Homo sapiens: one gene and its partner. The protein of the gene in region 1 interacts with the protein of each later gene in a biochemical or structural test. Each region holds a gene or a part of one and is shown on either strand. Other genes may lie near its edges.

Region 1 (7,026 bases):
CTCTGGGAGCAACCAGGACCTGGGAGCTGGGGCCGGGGAAGACGCCCGGTCGGATGACAGCAGCAGCCGCATCATCAATGGATCCGACTGCGATATGCACACCCAGCCGTGGCAGGCCGCGCTGTTGCTAAGGCCCAACCAGCTCTACTGCGGGGCGGTGTTGGTGCATCCACAGTGGCTGCTCACGGCCGCCCACTGCAGGAAGAAGTGAGTGGGAGTTCCAAGAGGAGGGTTGGTGGGGACGGGGAAGTGGGGGTGGGGGTGGGGAAGTGGGGGTGGGGGTGTCATGGAGGTGAGGGCTGGTGGGGACGGGGAAGTGGGGTTGGGGGTGTCATGGAAGGTGAGGGTTGGTGGGGATGGGTTGGGGATGTGGGAGCAGGAGGAGGTCGAGTTGGGGATAGGACTAAGGATGGAGTTTTGCGGGGGAGCAAGGTGGGAGGATGAGGTTGGAGAGGGGAGAGTGTTGTGGTAGGGAATGGGAAGGAGCCAAGGATGGGTTGGATTTGGGGTTAGGAGCATATATTTGTTGAATGGTTTGGGATGGAGGTGGAATTGGGATTGGCTTTAGAATTGGGGGTGGGTGAAAATCGGGCTGGGGTGGAAATGAAGATAGCATGGAGATAGGGTTGAGATTGGGAGCAGATATAGAATGAAGGATGGGGATTGGAGTTTTGGGTGGGGTTGGAGATGGTTGGATTTGGGCTTGAGAATGCATATGGTGATGGCTTCTGGGTAGGGAAAGAATTAGGGTTGGGAATGGGATGGGTTTGGAATTGTGACTGGGATGGGGACAGGCATGGGATTGGAGACCAAGAGGGAGTTGAGGATGGTTTGGGGACCGGGGGTGGGGATGGGGGTGGGGCTGGGGCTGGGTGTGGGGTTGGGATTGGCGTTGGACGTGGAGATAGAGATCAGGGTTGGTGGTGACCTGCCCCATCTTCCTCAGAGTTTTCAGAGTCCGTCTCGGCCACTACTCCCTGTCACCAGTTTATGAATCTGGGCAGCAGATGTTCCAGGGGGTCAAATCCATCCCCCACCCTGGCTACTCCCACCCTGGCCACTCTAACGACCTCATGCTCATCAAACTGAACAGAAGAATTCGTCCCACTAAAGATGTCAGACCCATCAACGTCTCCTCTCATTGTCCCTCTGCTGGGACAAAGTGCTTGGTGTCTGGCTGGGGGACAACCAAGAGCCCCCAAGGTGAGTGTCCAGGTTCTTCTTGATACCGACCCATCTCTGCCGCCTTCCATCTTTCTCCACTTCTCATTGTGTTCCTGTTTGACAGTGCACTTCCCTAAGGTCCTCCAGTGCTTGAATATCAGCGTGCTAAGTCAGAAAAGGTGCGAGGATGCTTACCCGAGACAGATAGATGACACCATGTTCTGCGCCGGTGACAAAGCAGGTAGAGACTCCTGCCAGGTGAGGACACCTCTCTTTATTCAGCAGATACACACTGAGTGCCAACTCGGTAACATGGAGCGTTGCCAAATTCTGAGAATCCAGCAATTGCCAAGACAGTCAGGACCCCTGTTCTCACAGAGCTCATACCCTAGAGTAGTGGTGTTTAGTAGAAATAATGCTGAGCTGCTTATGTCATTTCCAGTTTTTTAGTAGCCACATTAAAACAGGTAAAAAAGGCTGGGCGCAGTGGCTCACACCTGTAATCCCAGCACTTTGGGAGGCTGAGGCAGGCAGATCACCTTTGGTCAGGAGTTTGAGACTAGCCTGGCCAACATGGCGAAACTCTGTCTCTAAAAAAAAATACAAAAATTAGCCTGGCATGGTGGCGGGCGCCTGTAATCTCAGCTGCTCAGGAGGCCGAGACACAAGAATCACTTAAACCCAGGAGGTGGAGGTTGCAGTGAGCTGAGATCGTGCCACTCACTCCAACCTGGGAGACAGAGTGACACTTTTGTCTCAAAAAGAAAAAAAAAAACAAGTAAAAAAGAAACAGGTGAAGTTAACTTTAATAACCCAATGTATCCCAAATACAATCATTTCAAAGTGTAATTAATATAAAACAATTATGAATGAGATACTTTACATTCTTTTCTTGTTTTCATATTAAGTCTTTGAAAGTGAGTATATATGTTATGCTGACAGCACATCTCAATTTGGACTAGCTACATTTCAGGTGCTCAGTAGCCACATGTGGCTAGCAGTTACTGTATTGGATGGCACGGATCTAGAGGGAAAGATCAGGGCTGTTTTGTATGGTTGGGCAGGTTGTGCACTGCATAAAGATACCATATCTAATAGGGGCACTCCGTGTTACAGATGTCAGTTTTGGCAGTTTTCAGGCGTGTGGTAGTTAAGTGTCTTGTTTCAACAAAATCTGTAATATGACAGTTTTCTAGCAAGTGCTGGTAAAATATCTTGAGGAAGGAAAAGAGAAATCTGGTAGGTATTTTTACAAGAGAATATTTAATACAGGGGATTAATTGCAAAGCTGCTGGAAGGGCTGGAGGAACAAAGTTAAAAAATAAAAAACTCTGTGGTCAAGAATCTGCATAAATAGGGCAATTTCAGAGAGTGGTAAAGGTTAACCCCAAAATAAAACATGGTTTTAGGATAGTAAACAATAAGGGCCAATATTCAAAAAGGTGGTCAGGGGAGCCTCCTTGGAGAGGTGGCATTTGAGCAGAGAATGGATGACACAAAGAAGCTAAACTCGTGAAGTTTAAGGGGAAAGAAAAGGCACGTGCAAAGGCCCTGAGGCAGTAAGGAATTTGGCTGATTCAAAGAAGAAGAGGAAACCAATGCAACTGGAGAACAAAAGTGGGGGCAACAGTAGAAAGTGACGCTGGAGGTGTAGGCAGGGGCGAATGCTCTGCAAGTATTTCTTGGTCACCAACACAGAGCTTCCCTATGTTCTAATGGAAGCTGTATCTGTTGAGGAAGACAGAATTTAAAATCAAACTGTTACATCAACCAGCACCCTTCTCTGTATTCAGGCTCCCAAGGGATCTAGAAGGACGTAAGTTAACAAGCTCTCATTAGCAGGGTGTGTGTTTCAACAGTAGTTAGGAAGCTGGGGATTCAGGAGTACTCCAGTCCCATGGCTATGAAAAGCTCCCCCCAAATTGTACAAACCTGACAAATGCAACACCTCCCCAGCTCTCCCCATTTCTTCTCTGTGCCCTGGGTGTGGGGGGGTGGGTTGCGAGGGGGAAAACTTTTAACAGAAGAAAGCACATCTCGGCCGGGCGTGGTGGCTCACACCTGTAATCCCAACACTTTGGGAGGCCGAGGCGGGTGGATCACTAGGTCAGGAGATGGAGACCATCCTGGCTGACACGGTGAAACCCTGTCTCTACTAAAAACACAAAAAATTAGCCGGGCGTGGTGGCAGGCGCCTGTAGTCCCAGCTACTCGGGAGGCTGAGGCAGGAGAATGGCCTGAACCCGGGAGGCGGAACTTGCAGTGAGCCGAGGTTGCACCACTGCACTCCAGCCTGGGCAACACAGTGAGACTCCGTCTCAAAAAAAAAAAAAGAAAAGAAAAGAAATCACATCTCATTCAAGTGGTGGCATTTAAAACTATTTAGCCTTTCTGTAGGCAAGGTTAGTATCTTGTTTTTCCAGACCTCAAGGTGTTTTTTTGTTTGTTTTTTCATACCGGTGTGTGGTCTGGGTGTGGCCACTAAAAGCTACAAGCAAGAAATAATAACAACTACAACAATACTAATACCAATAGTATAAAAATAATAGCATCTGGCTAATTGCTGGACACTGTTTTAAGTGGTTTGCATGCCTCAGCTCATTAACTCATTTACCTGTTATTATTGGCCCTATTTTACAAACAAGGAGCCAAGGCTCAGAGCAGTTAACTAACAGCCTCTCAAAAGAAACTCTGCAGAGATATTAAATTTAAAAAATAATGAGAGAAATTAAACCACAAGAAAGTTGAAATTTAGAGGTACAGGCAGCTAAGCTTGTTTGCTTTGAAACAGTGTCTGCTACTGGGAAAAAGGCAAGTCTTGGCTTTCCTAATAATTGATACCAGGACTCTGTAATTCATATTTTGCATGCATGTAAGTAAGAAATGAAGCCGGGTGCAATGGCACATGCCAGTAATCCCAGCACTCTGGGAGACTGAAGTGGGAAGATCACTTGAGCTCAGGAGTTCAAGACCAGCCTGGGCAACTAAAAATTAAAAAAATAAAAATACTAATTGTTTTTATTTTAGTAGATTTTATTCATACCACTTACATCATTATTGTAGTATGTACATATTTATTTCTTTTCTTTTCTTTTCTTTTCTTTTTTGAGACGGAGTCTCGCTCTGTCACCCAGGCTGGAGTGCAATGGCACCATATCAGCTCACTGCAGCATGCGCCTCCTGGGTTCAAGCATTTCTTCCACCTCAGCCTCCCAAGTAGCTGGGATAACAGGCACCCACCACCATGCCTGGCTATTTTTTTTTTTCCGTAGAGATGGGGTTCCACCATGTTGGCCAGGCTGGTCTTGAACTCCTGACCTCCAGTGATCTGCCTGCCTCGGCCTCCCAAATTGCTGGTATTACAGGTGTGAGCCACCGTGCCCAGGTGGGAGATAGACATTTCTCTCTACCTCAAACAGAGGTCCACTCAAGCTACTTTTCATTTTCTTCATAAATATTAGCCGAGTGGCTATTTTGCACCAGGAATGGTTCCAGGTGCTGTGGATATGGCATCAGGCAAAACAGACCAAAAACTTCCTGCCGCGTGGACCTCATGTTCCCCAAGTGGAAGACAGGCAATAAAGAGATAGATAAATATGTAGTAAATTAAAAAAAAAAAAAATTAGCCGGGTGTGGTGGCTTGCACCTGTAGTTCCAGCTACTTGGGAGGCTGAGGTGGGAGAATTGCTTGAGCCCAAACGTTTGAGGCTGCGGTAAGCCATGACTGCACTGCTGCACTCCAGACAGCAGCCTGGGTGACAAAGCAAGACGTTTTTGTCAGAAAGAAAAAAAAAAGAGACGAAGGGAGGAAGGAGAGAGAAAGGAAGGAAGGAAGGAGAAAGAAAGGAAGGAAGGAGAAAGAAAGGAAGGAAGGAAGGAGAAAGAAAGGAAGAAAGAGAAAGAAAGAAAAAGAAAGAAAGAAAGAAGAAAGAAAAGAGAGAGGAAGGAAGGAAAGAAGGAAAAGAGGGAAAAAAATGACTGTTGAAGAGCAGTGAGTATTATTATAGGAGGGTAATTATAGGGAGGTATGGGGAATTGAAGACAGGAAACACAAATTAGTCCAAGCGAATGGATTTCTATTGGGAGTGATTCTGCCCCTAGAAGACACTGGCAATACCAGGAGACATTTTTGGTTGTCACAACTATATGGAGGGGCATTACTGGCAACTAATGGATAGATGCCAAGTGTGCTGTTCAACATGCTATGATGCACACGGCAGGCCTCCACAACAAACCATTATCCAGCTTCAGATGCCCACAGTGCCCAGATCGAGGAACCCTCATCCAGGGGCTGAGAACCGTATTTTTGCAGAAGGGAGGTATAAGGATGGGTTGGTGGAGAATGGGGAAGGAAGGTGTGTGTCCAGTAAGAGAAATAAGGCCTGCACAGGCTGGAGGGGAGAGTGAGAGAGAAAGGGAGGCGGAGAGATACACGATGAGGGAGACAGGCTGGAACAGAAAGTAGAGACGAAGATTCGAGATGTGGAGAGGAAGGGTCACAGACCCCCCCGAAATGATGTGTGGACAACAGGAATCTGGAAGAGGAAGATGGAGTGGAGAGTGACAAATGGGGTCTAAAGGTTGAACTTGGAGGCCAGGCATGGTGGCTCACGCCTGTAATCCCAACACTTTGGAGGCTGAGGTGGGCGAATCACTTGAGGCCAGGAGTTCGAGACCAGCCTGGCCAACATGGTGAAACCCCGTCTCTACAAAAAAAATACAAAAAATTAGCCGGGTGTGGTGATGGACACCTGTAGTCACAGCTACTTGGGAGGCTGAGGCAGGAGAATTGCTTGAACCCGGGAGATGGAGGCTGCAGTGAGCTGAGGTCAGGCCACTGCGCTCCAACCTGGGCAACAGAGTAAGACTCCATCTCAAAAAAAAAAAAGCTGGATTTGGAGTGAAATATTAATAACATTCTCCCTCTCTCTCCTTTTGCCTGTGTCTCCATCTCTGTCTTTTTCTGCATTTCTTCATCTCTGTACTTTCCATCTCTGTGTGTCTGTTCCCATCTGCTTCTCCATCTATGGGCATCTCTGGGTCTCTCATGTCTCCTTCTGCCCACTTTGCCACATCTCTGCCTCTCTCATGCCCCCCTTTCTCTCCTGCAGGGTGATTCTGGGGGGCCTGTGGTCTGCAATGGCTCCCTGCAGGGACTCGTGTCCTGGGGAGATTACCCTTGTGCCCGGCCCAACAGACCGGGTGTCTACACGAACCTCTGCAAGTTCACCAAGTGGATCCAGGAAACCATCCAGGCCAACTCCTGAGTCATCCCAGGACTCAGCACACCGGCATCCCCACCTGCTGCAGGGACAGCCCTGACACTCCTTTCAGACCCTCATTCCTTCCCAGAGATGTTGAGAATGTTCATCTCTCCAGCCCCTGACCCCATGTCTCCTGGACTCAGGGTCTGCTTCCCCCACATTGGGCTGACCGTGTCTCTCTAGTTGAACCCTGGGAACAATTTCCAAAACTGTCCAGGGCGGGGGTTGCGTCTCAATCTCCCTGGGGCACTTTCATCCTCAAGCTCAGGGCCCATCCCTTCTCTGCAGCTCTGACCCAAATTTAGTCCCAGAAATAAACTGAGAAGTGGAATCTTCCTGTGTCTCCTCCCTGTGCAGGGTGGCTGTGAACAAGTCATATCTCCGCCTCCAGGCTCATGTGTTTTGTCTATGAGGTCACTTGGGTTGTGAGAAACAGAGGTCCAGTCAGACTACTTTTCACCTTCTTCATAAATATTGGCCAGGTGGCTATTTTTTATTTTCATTTATTTATTATTATTATTTTTTTTTTTTTGCGATGGAGTCTCACTCTGTTAACCACACTGGAGTGCAGTGGCACAATCTCGGCTCACTGCAACCT
Region 2 (7,641 bases), on another chromosome or scaffold:
ATGTATAGTATCATCCTATTTAACATTGTACTAAAAGTCCTAGCTAGAGCAATACGTTAGGAAAAGGAATTAAAAGCAGAGTAATTGGAAAAGAAGTAATAAAACTGTTATTACTCACAGAATGATATAACTTTTGTATGTGGAAAATCCAAAAGAATGTATAGCTAAACTATTAGAATAAATAAACTAAACATGCTTCTGGTTATAAGTATACAAAAATCAATTGTATTTCTATATAACAGCAATAAACACTTAGAAAATGAAATAAGAAAAGATGCTATTTACAAAAGCATAAAAAAATCAGAAAAATTTTAGGAATAAATCTAATTAAAGATATGAAATGGCTGTACTCAGAATATTATAAAAGTTGAGATTATAAGTGCTGAGAAAATGAAATAGGAAAGGAGGCTATTCATAAAAGCATAAAAAAAGAGGAAATTTTTAGGAATAAATCTAAGAAAACATGAAAGAGCTATACTCAGAAAATTATAAATATTGAGATAAAGATTTAAATAAATGGACAATATATAGCTTGTTTATGAACTGAAAGTCTAAATAGCATTAAGATATCAAATCTCCTTAAATTCATTTATAGATGCAATGAAATCCCATTCTGAATATCTGAAGTTTTTTTAAAAAATAAAGATTAATAAGGTGATTTCTAAAATTTATATGAAAATGTAGAGGGCTAAGATTAGGTAAGACCATCTTTAAGAAGACTAAGTTGGAAGACATACCAGATAGCAAGGTGTGTTATAAAGGAAGAAAATATGGCATGATGCAAGGCTAAACAAATGGAATGATAAAAGATAATAGTATAAAGTCAGTCTTATATCACTCTGGACATTTGGTTAATGGCAAAGATGGTAGTGTAGGTCAGTAGAGAAAGAATAGTCTTGAATAAATGGTGCTGGGTTAATTGAATTTTCAAATGGAAAAAAAATAGTTTCCAGGTTGATTTTACATGTAAGAGATAAACGAAGATAACATTGGAGAATATCTTCAGGACCTCGGGGTGGGGAAATACTTAAATAAAATTCAAAAAGTACTAATTAATAAGAAAAAGACTGATAAATTGTACTGCATTAAAAGTAGGAATGTTTATTCTTTTAAAGATAGCATTAGAAGAGAGATGTACAAGCCACACAGTGGGAGGATATACAAAACACATTTAACCAATAAAGGAATCTGTCCTGAATATAAAAATAGCTTCTATAAATCAATAAAAAATACAGTTAACTCAATGGAAAAATGAATACCTTAGGAACGTTACAGAAAAGGATATCCAAATGGCCAATAAACATATCAAAACTTCTCAACCTTGTTATGCACTAGGGAAATGCAAATTGAAATAACGTGTGAGACCTCAATACACCCACCAAAGTGACTAAAAAGATAAGAAAGAAAAAAATCCTTGACAATACCAAATATTGGTGAGAATGTGGAGAATTGAGATTTTTTTTTTTTTTATGTACTGCTGGAGGCACATAAAGTGACAGAAGCACTTTGGAAAATTGTTTGACAGTATCTAAGTCCTAGCGATTTACTCTTAGGAATATTCCCAACTGAAATATGTACATATGTGTAACCAAAAGTAGTACACAAAAAAGTGCATAGCCCTATTATTTATAATACCCCCCAAAATGGAAGAGACCCAAGTATCTACCCATAGACAAATGGATGAATAAATTGTTATATTTTCAGATAACATAATAGTCAGTGTTGGGAGATGAAGGTAGACTGGACTAGGATGATAATGGCAGAGAGGGGGATAAATGGATAGATTTGGCAGGTTTGTAGGCAGAGTTGACTGGACGTGGTGATGAATCAGTGTGATGAGAAAACAGGAATCATGGATAACTTCTAGATTTTGGTATGAGCAAACAGTTATTTCTCGTTATTTCTATTATTTCCATCATCTTTCACATAAAAGAATGCAGTCTCTCCCTGCTCCTGCTCTTGCCTTCCTATATTCCTGTTTTCCACGTAGCAGCCCAGAGTGGTCTTTTAAAAACATAGATTATCTTACTCCTCCTGCTTAATACCCCTTTAAGTACATGCTAAAATCTAACATGTACTGTTTTAATTCTACTGTGCCCCTCTTTACATGAGCTACGCTGTCTAGCTCTCTGACATCACCATATACCACTGGTCCTCTTTTTAACTATGTATGCTCTAAGGCACACTAGCTTCTTTTTGCTCTTTGGGACAAGTTTACTCTTGCTTAGAATCTTGCCCTTTGCCTTGGCTAGTTTCTTTTGTGTTTAAGATCTCAACTCAAAGATAATTCCCTAGAGAGGTCTTCCCCTGGCCATCTAATTTAAAGCACTTTCCTCCTCCCTCCCATCACTTTACTACAAGCTTGTCCAATCTGTGGCCCAGGACAGCTTTGAATGTGGCCCAACACAAATTTGTAAACTTTCTTAAAACATTACGAGTTTTTTTTTAAGCTTATCAGCTATTATTAGTGTCAGTGTGTTTTATGTGTGGCCCAAGACAATTCTTTTTCCATTATGACCCAGGGAAGCCAAAAGACGGGACACCCCTGCTCTACTACATCACTCTTTTATTTTCTTCATTGTTCTTATCACTATTTAAAATTATCTTATTTGTTTATTGTTGTTTACTAAATGTTTCCCCCTATTAAAGGTAAGCTGCTAGGAGTTTATATAGTTCACTGCTGCATAGATAGAGCCAAGACCAAGTAGAAGGTAGTTAATACATATTTGTTAAGTAAATGAATAAATGGACAATCTAACAATACAGAGTATTGAGTAGCTCCATGGAAAGCAAATTTATGCCCTCATTTTCCTTCTATATAGAAATAAACCTTTTAGTGACAGTGCCACTAAAAAGAAAGAGAAAAACCCTAAACTTCCAGAACCTTTTGCCTTACAGTACACATACATTCAGATTTCCACCTTGGTTAATAGTAAGTAGACAAAATTAAATGTATTCCTTCTTACCTTGTTCACCAAAAGAGCAAATAGAATGTAGCCTGAAGGAGCCTGCTGGGTACTGAAGGCTGAGATAATGGCCCTTTTATAGCAGGCCCCATGCAGGGAGGAGCCACCCTCTGTGGGATGGTCTGATTCATTCCTAACCAAACCTAGATCCACCCATATCTCCACCTCTATTTCTCCAGCAACCTGTGTTTACTTCCCAGCTTCCTCACGTACTCATCTGTACTTGTTTCAGCAAGTTCCAAATTTGGGTTTACATATTGGAAATTTTATGGAAGGGTCCCTTTGGCTAATACAGGTTGTTTGTGTGCAGGGCCCATACCTACTTTTCTGTAACCCCACTTTGGCTTGACAGGTGCTTGGTAAATATCTATTGATAAATACACTTCCTGATCCTTGTCTCTAGAAGAGTAGGACATATTAATACGTTTATAAGAACTTGAAATTCAATTTATGATAGGAAAACATCACAAGCATCTACATATATGTTCTTTTTTAATCTATGTATTCCATCTTTGGGTACTGAAGAACTTGCCATGAGATGAATGCCGTCTTCTAGAAATTATGGTCAGTAGAGGATAGGCAAATTTAATTTTAATTTTTCAAAGCAGAGCAAGAATGTGAACAATTGAACTAGAAGTGGTGATCACTAGGAGCATGAGTTTAATTAGGCAAGACTCATTAGTGTAATTTTACTTTGTTTTCAAGGTTATTACATCGTGGCATCAGAGACATGTTCCACATACTCTTCCTTCTTAAACCATGAATTTTCTTTTATTGCCATAAATATACAGGGGACTCCTATCCCTGGTCTGTCTTATGATATACACACTGTTATGTTGAGCAGATTGCATCTCCATATGGATGTCCCATGGTTATCTCAATCCATAGTGTTGAAAACTGAACTTACATTGTGCCTCCTACCAAAATGTACTATCCTCCAGAAGCCCATATATTGGTAATGATGCCCCCACACACTGGGTGTCTCAAGCTAGACAAAGTCATTTTCATTTCTCCTTTTCCTTAACCCCTCATGCTCATGTCACATCGTATCAATTATACTCAGGCTTAGATTTTGTTATGTAGGCCTATTCTCTACCTCCAGTGCTATAATTTTAGTTCTGGACCTGACCATCTTTCAATTGGGTATTGGTAAAGAAAAAAAAGTGTCGTAACTAGCCTCTCTCTCTACTATTAAGCTGGCTTACCATCTTATGTCATTCGCTGTGCTGGTTTCTTCTTGCCTGCAGAATTTCAGACTTTTTTACCTGACGTACAAGCCCCTTTACAATAGGCATGAATCTGTATCTTTTCAATTGTCCCTCTTATTACCTGTATCTCATGGAAAAGTCACTCTAGAATGAGCAATATTTCTTGGACGAGCCCATATTGGTCCACTACTGTTCAAAATCTTTGCGTGCTATCCTCCACTACCTTGACTTGAGAGACCCTCATCCTTAACTTCTCTTTATCTTTTAAGATTCTTCAAAATTACCACCTCCTGCATAAAGCCTTACCTGACATCTCCAGATTTATCAGTGTTCCCTCACATACTCTGTATTTACCTCTCAATAGCACTGGTGATATTTTATATTAATTACTTATTTATATGTGTGCCCCCTGCCCCCTGGTGCCTTGAATCCTGTGTTTCTTCTCACCCTAGCATTGACTGGGTCTGAGTCATCCTTTGTGTCCTTGGGCCCTACAGCAATGCCTGGGACATGATCAAATAAGGGATGCAAGGGTGTGCCAATCTTGTTCAGAGTCAAAGAGATAAAAATATGCCCGAGTTTTTAAAACTGTGTTTAATGTCCTCGTTCTTAACCTTATTAGACCATTGATTCTTTCTTTTGTGGAGTATTGGTTAACATCTGTAGAACACAGATATTCATTTTCTCCTTTTTTCTTCTTGGGTCTAATTTTTTTATGCCAGTAGTTATTGCATTTTTGTCTCTACCATGATGTAATAATGATAGTAATCTATATTGTATACCCATTATGTGCTAGGAATGTGCTAAGATTTTGCGTGTATTAATTTTAATCATCAGGACAACCCTTTGAGGTCATTATTATTCCTCTATTTTAGAGATGAGGGAACTGATACTGATAAGGCACCCAAGGTCACCAAGCAAGTAAGTTACAGAACTAGGATTTAATCTGAGGTTATTCAGACTCCAACTCCCACATTATTTCCACCATGGCATATTGTTCTGGGTGTGAACTTTTATCCTTTTTTTGTTAACCTTATTTATATTTTTAATGTTTTAAACAGTGATTTCTCTCAAAGTACCTATGTCTGGGTGAACTTAACTGTGGAAATCATTGCAGGATCAGCAGAAAGACTAGACCATGGACTATGAGTGAGTGAAGAAGGTAGCATTGAGAGAGTGTCAAGAATGAGGCAATCTTGGATATGACCTTCTTTGGGGCCAAAAGACCCCAAATCTTGCAGAATTATGTCAATATGGAGGGTATTGTTTAGTGGTCTGCTCTAGGACTTTTTTCCTGACCATGTTGTGCTCATTGTATTTTATCAATAACTTAGGTGAAAATTTGGATAGATGGCAAATATTTTTAGGATAGACTGAGGATTCAAGAAGATTTTATCATGTTGCACCAATGGCTCAAATCTGATAAATGAATATTATTGAAAAAGTAAAATTCTGACTCCAGTTCCAAATTACACTTTACAAGGATAGGGTAGAAGACATGAGTAAAAAAAGCAATATTGTGGCAGTGGCAGAGTGATGCCATAGCCAAAAAGATAATGTGATATTAGGCTGCATTAAAATAAACACATTAGCTGGAACAAAATAGGTGGTGAGGTACTTGGCTCAGCATTTATCAAACTATTTCTGTAGCTCTTTGTTCAGTTCTGATGACCATTTTTCAGTAAGGATATGGACAAATTGGTATGTGTTCTGAGTAAAGTAGATAGAATGATTGTCTAGATGAGTGGCAAACAGAACTCAGTGGGATGGATGGATGGATGGATGGATGGATAGATGGATGGGAGATGCAATATCTGTCTTTGGCTATATGAGTGGCTGTTATATAGAAGAGGGATTATACTTGGACTATATAATCTCAAGGCAGGTAGAACTCAGATAAATATGTAGAAACTATAAGAAACCATGTTTTGGCTTTATGTAAGTGACGACTTTTTAATAGAATTGTCCAAACATGCAAATAATTATTTTTGGAGATAGTGAGTTCCCTATTATTGCCTAGAGAATTTTGAACTGGATGGAATCTTGGCATCAACTAGTTTAATCTGCTCACATTGTAGCTGAAGACTAGAAGGACCAATGTGGTATGGCTAGTAAATTAAAAAGTCAAGGCCCAGGCCTCCAACTCAGGGCTTTTCACTCCAAATCCTCTTTATGTTGCATCAGGTTGCATCAATTACAGGGAGATGAACATGAGACAGGGATAATTAGGATGGGAGTTAGGTAGAGGAACATTGGGTAGATGTCTGATAGATGCCCTTTTCAACCTGACAGCTACTATTCTATGATTGAAGTACATTTCTTTGCTTGACTCAGCTCAGCTCAGTTCAAATAGTTATTTGATCTGTGCAGTTTAATAACTGCAGGGGTAACATTATACTGCAAACAGGAGGATAGTTCTTGGGTTTTCATGCCCCACTTCCTGCCAGTCTGGCTGATCCCACTTGCATGCTAGCTTTTTACCCTCAGAATCTCAGGAATTTTTCCCCCTAAGTCTAAGGAATTTTTCCCCCTATTCAAATTCTTTGCTGTTGAATAGTGAACTCTGAGATGTGGCATGTCTTCTTATCTCCAGAGAGATCTTATTCTCCATATCATTGTTGCCACATAATGAAATGCTTTCAGTGGTGTTTTAGGTGTCTGTGGTCACATATTGCGGCTGCCAGCATTTGCTAAGGAGTGAAGGGAACTCCCCCAAGGCAGGAGTTATTGACAAATAATAAATTACAGGATTTCAATTATAATCATTCAATTGCTTGTCCCTCCCTTTTCCTACCCAGTAGGCTGGAAAGGCATTGTGTTGCCATCTGGCCTCTGGGCTGCTGATGTGGGTCAGGTTGTCACAATTCAAGGATCAGCCCTTTGAGATGTGTGACTGAGGCTGTAGGAGTGAAGGGGAGTTGGAATTTGTGGTTAAATGATTTCCTACAGGAGCTGTAGTCATCTTTTGGGAGGTGCTGTTTGGGGTTAGAATTTTTCCAGGTTGAATATTCTCTTGAATTCCATGGCATAGTTGAAGCTGATATTCCTGCTTAGTTAGCCATAGAGTGGTGGAGCAGTATCTGGCTAAAACACTTCCACTTGCAGCTTATATTTGCCAGGACAATGGTGATGGAAAGGAATCTTGATCCCAAGCAAACAAAATGTTCGAATTACCATTGATGCCCTCAGATGCTGCTTTCTTTATAGCCAGTCTCTCTTTCTCTCTCTCTCTCTCTCTCTCTCCCTCTCTCTCTCTCTGTGTGTGTTGTGTGTGTGTGTGTGATAGAGACAGAATGAGAGACAGACAGAAAGACAAAGAGAAGGAGGTAAAGGATGTAGAAGGAATGAGTGTGAGTGATAATAAGGCTTTTCCAGATAAAAGCAGGCCATTTTATGGCAATATGGATTGTCTTTCAGTTTTTCCATATGCCCAACATTTTCATTCTCGGGTACTCATTAACAGTTTC

The links. The genes of interacting proteins can lie anywhere in the genome.
Region 2: of the proteins of KLK5 (region 1) and FLG, one has a biochemical effect on the other in vitro, tested with the Homo sapiens proteins (one study listed by IntAct).

What each region holds. Positions count from the first base shown.
Region 1 is NC_000019.10:50,943,036-50,950,061, reverse strand, and holds the end of KLK5 (kallikrein-5 preproprotein), read left to right. Parts: coding exon 1-207; intron 208-946; coding exon 947-1,203; intron 1,204-1,288; coding exon 1,289-1,422; intron 1,423-6,275; coding exon 6,276-6,431; 3' UTR 6,432-6,759; downstream 6,760-7,026. UniProt on the Homo sapiens protein: May be involved in desquamation.
Region 2 is NC_000001.11:152,322,223-152,329,863, forward strand, and holds the start of FLG (filaggrin), read right to left. Parts: upstream 3,018-7,641; 5' UTR 2,967-3,017; intron 1-2,966.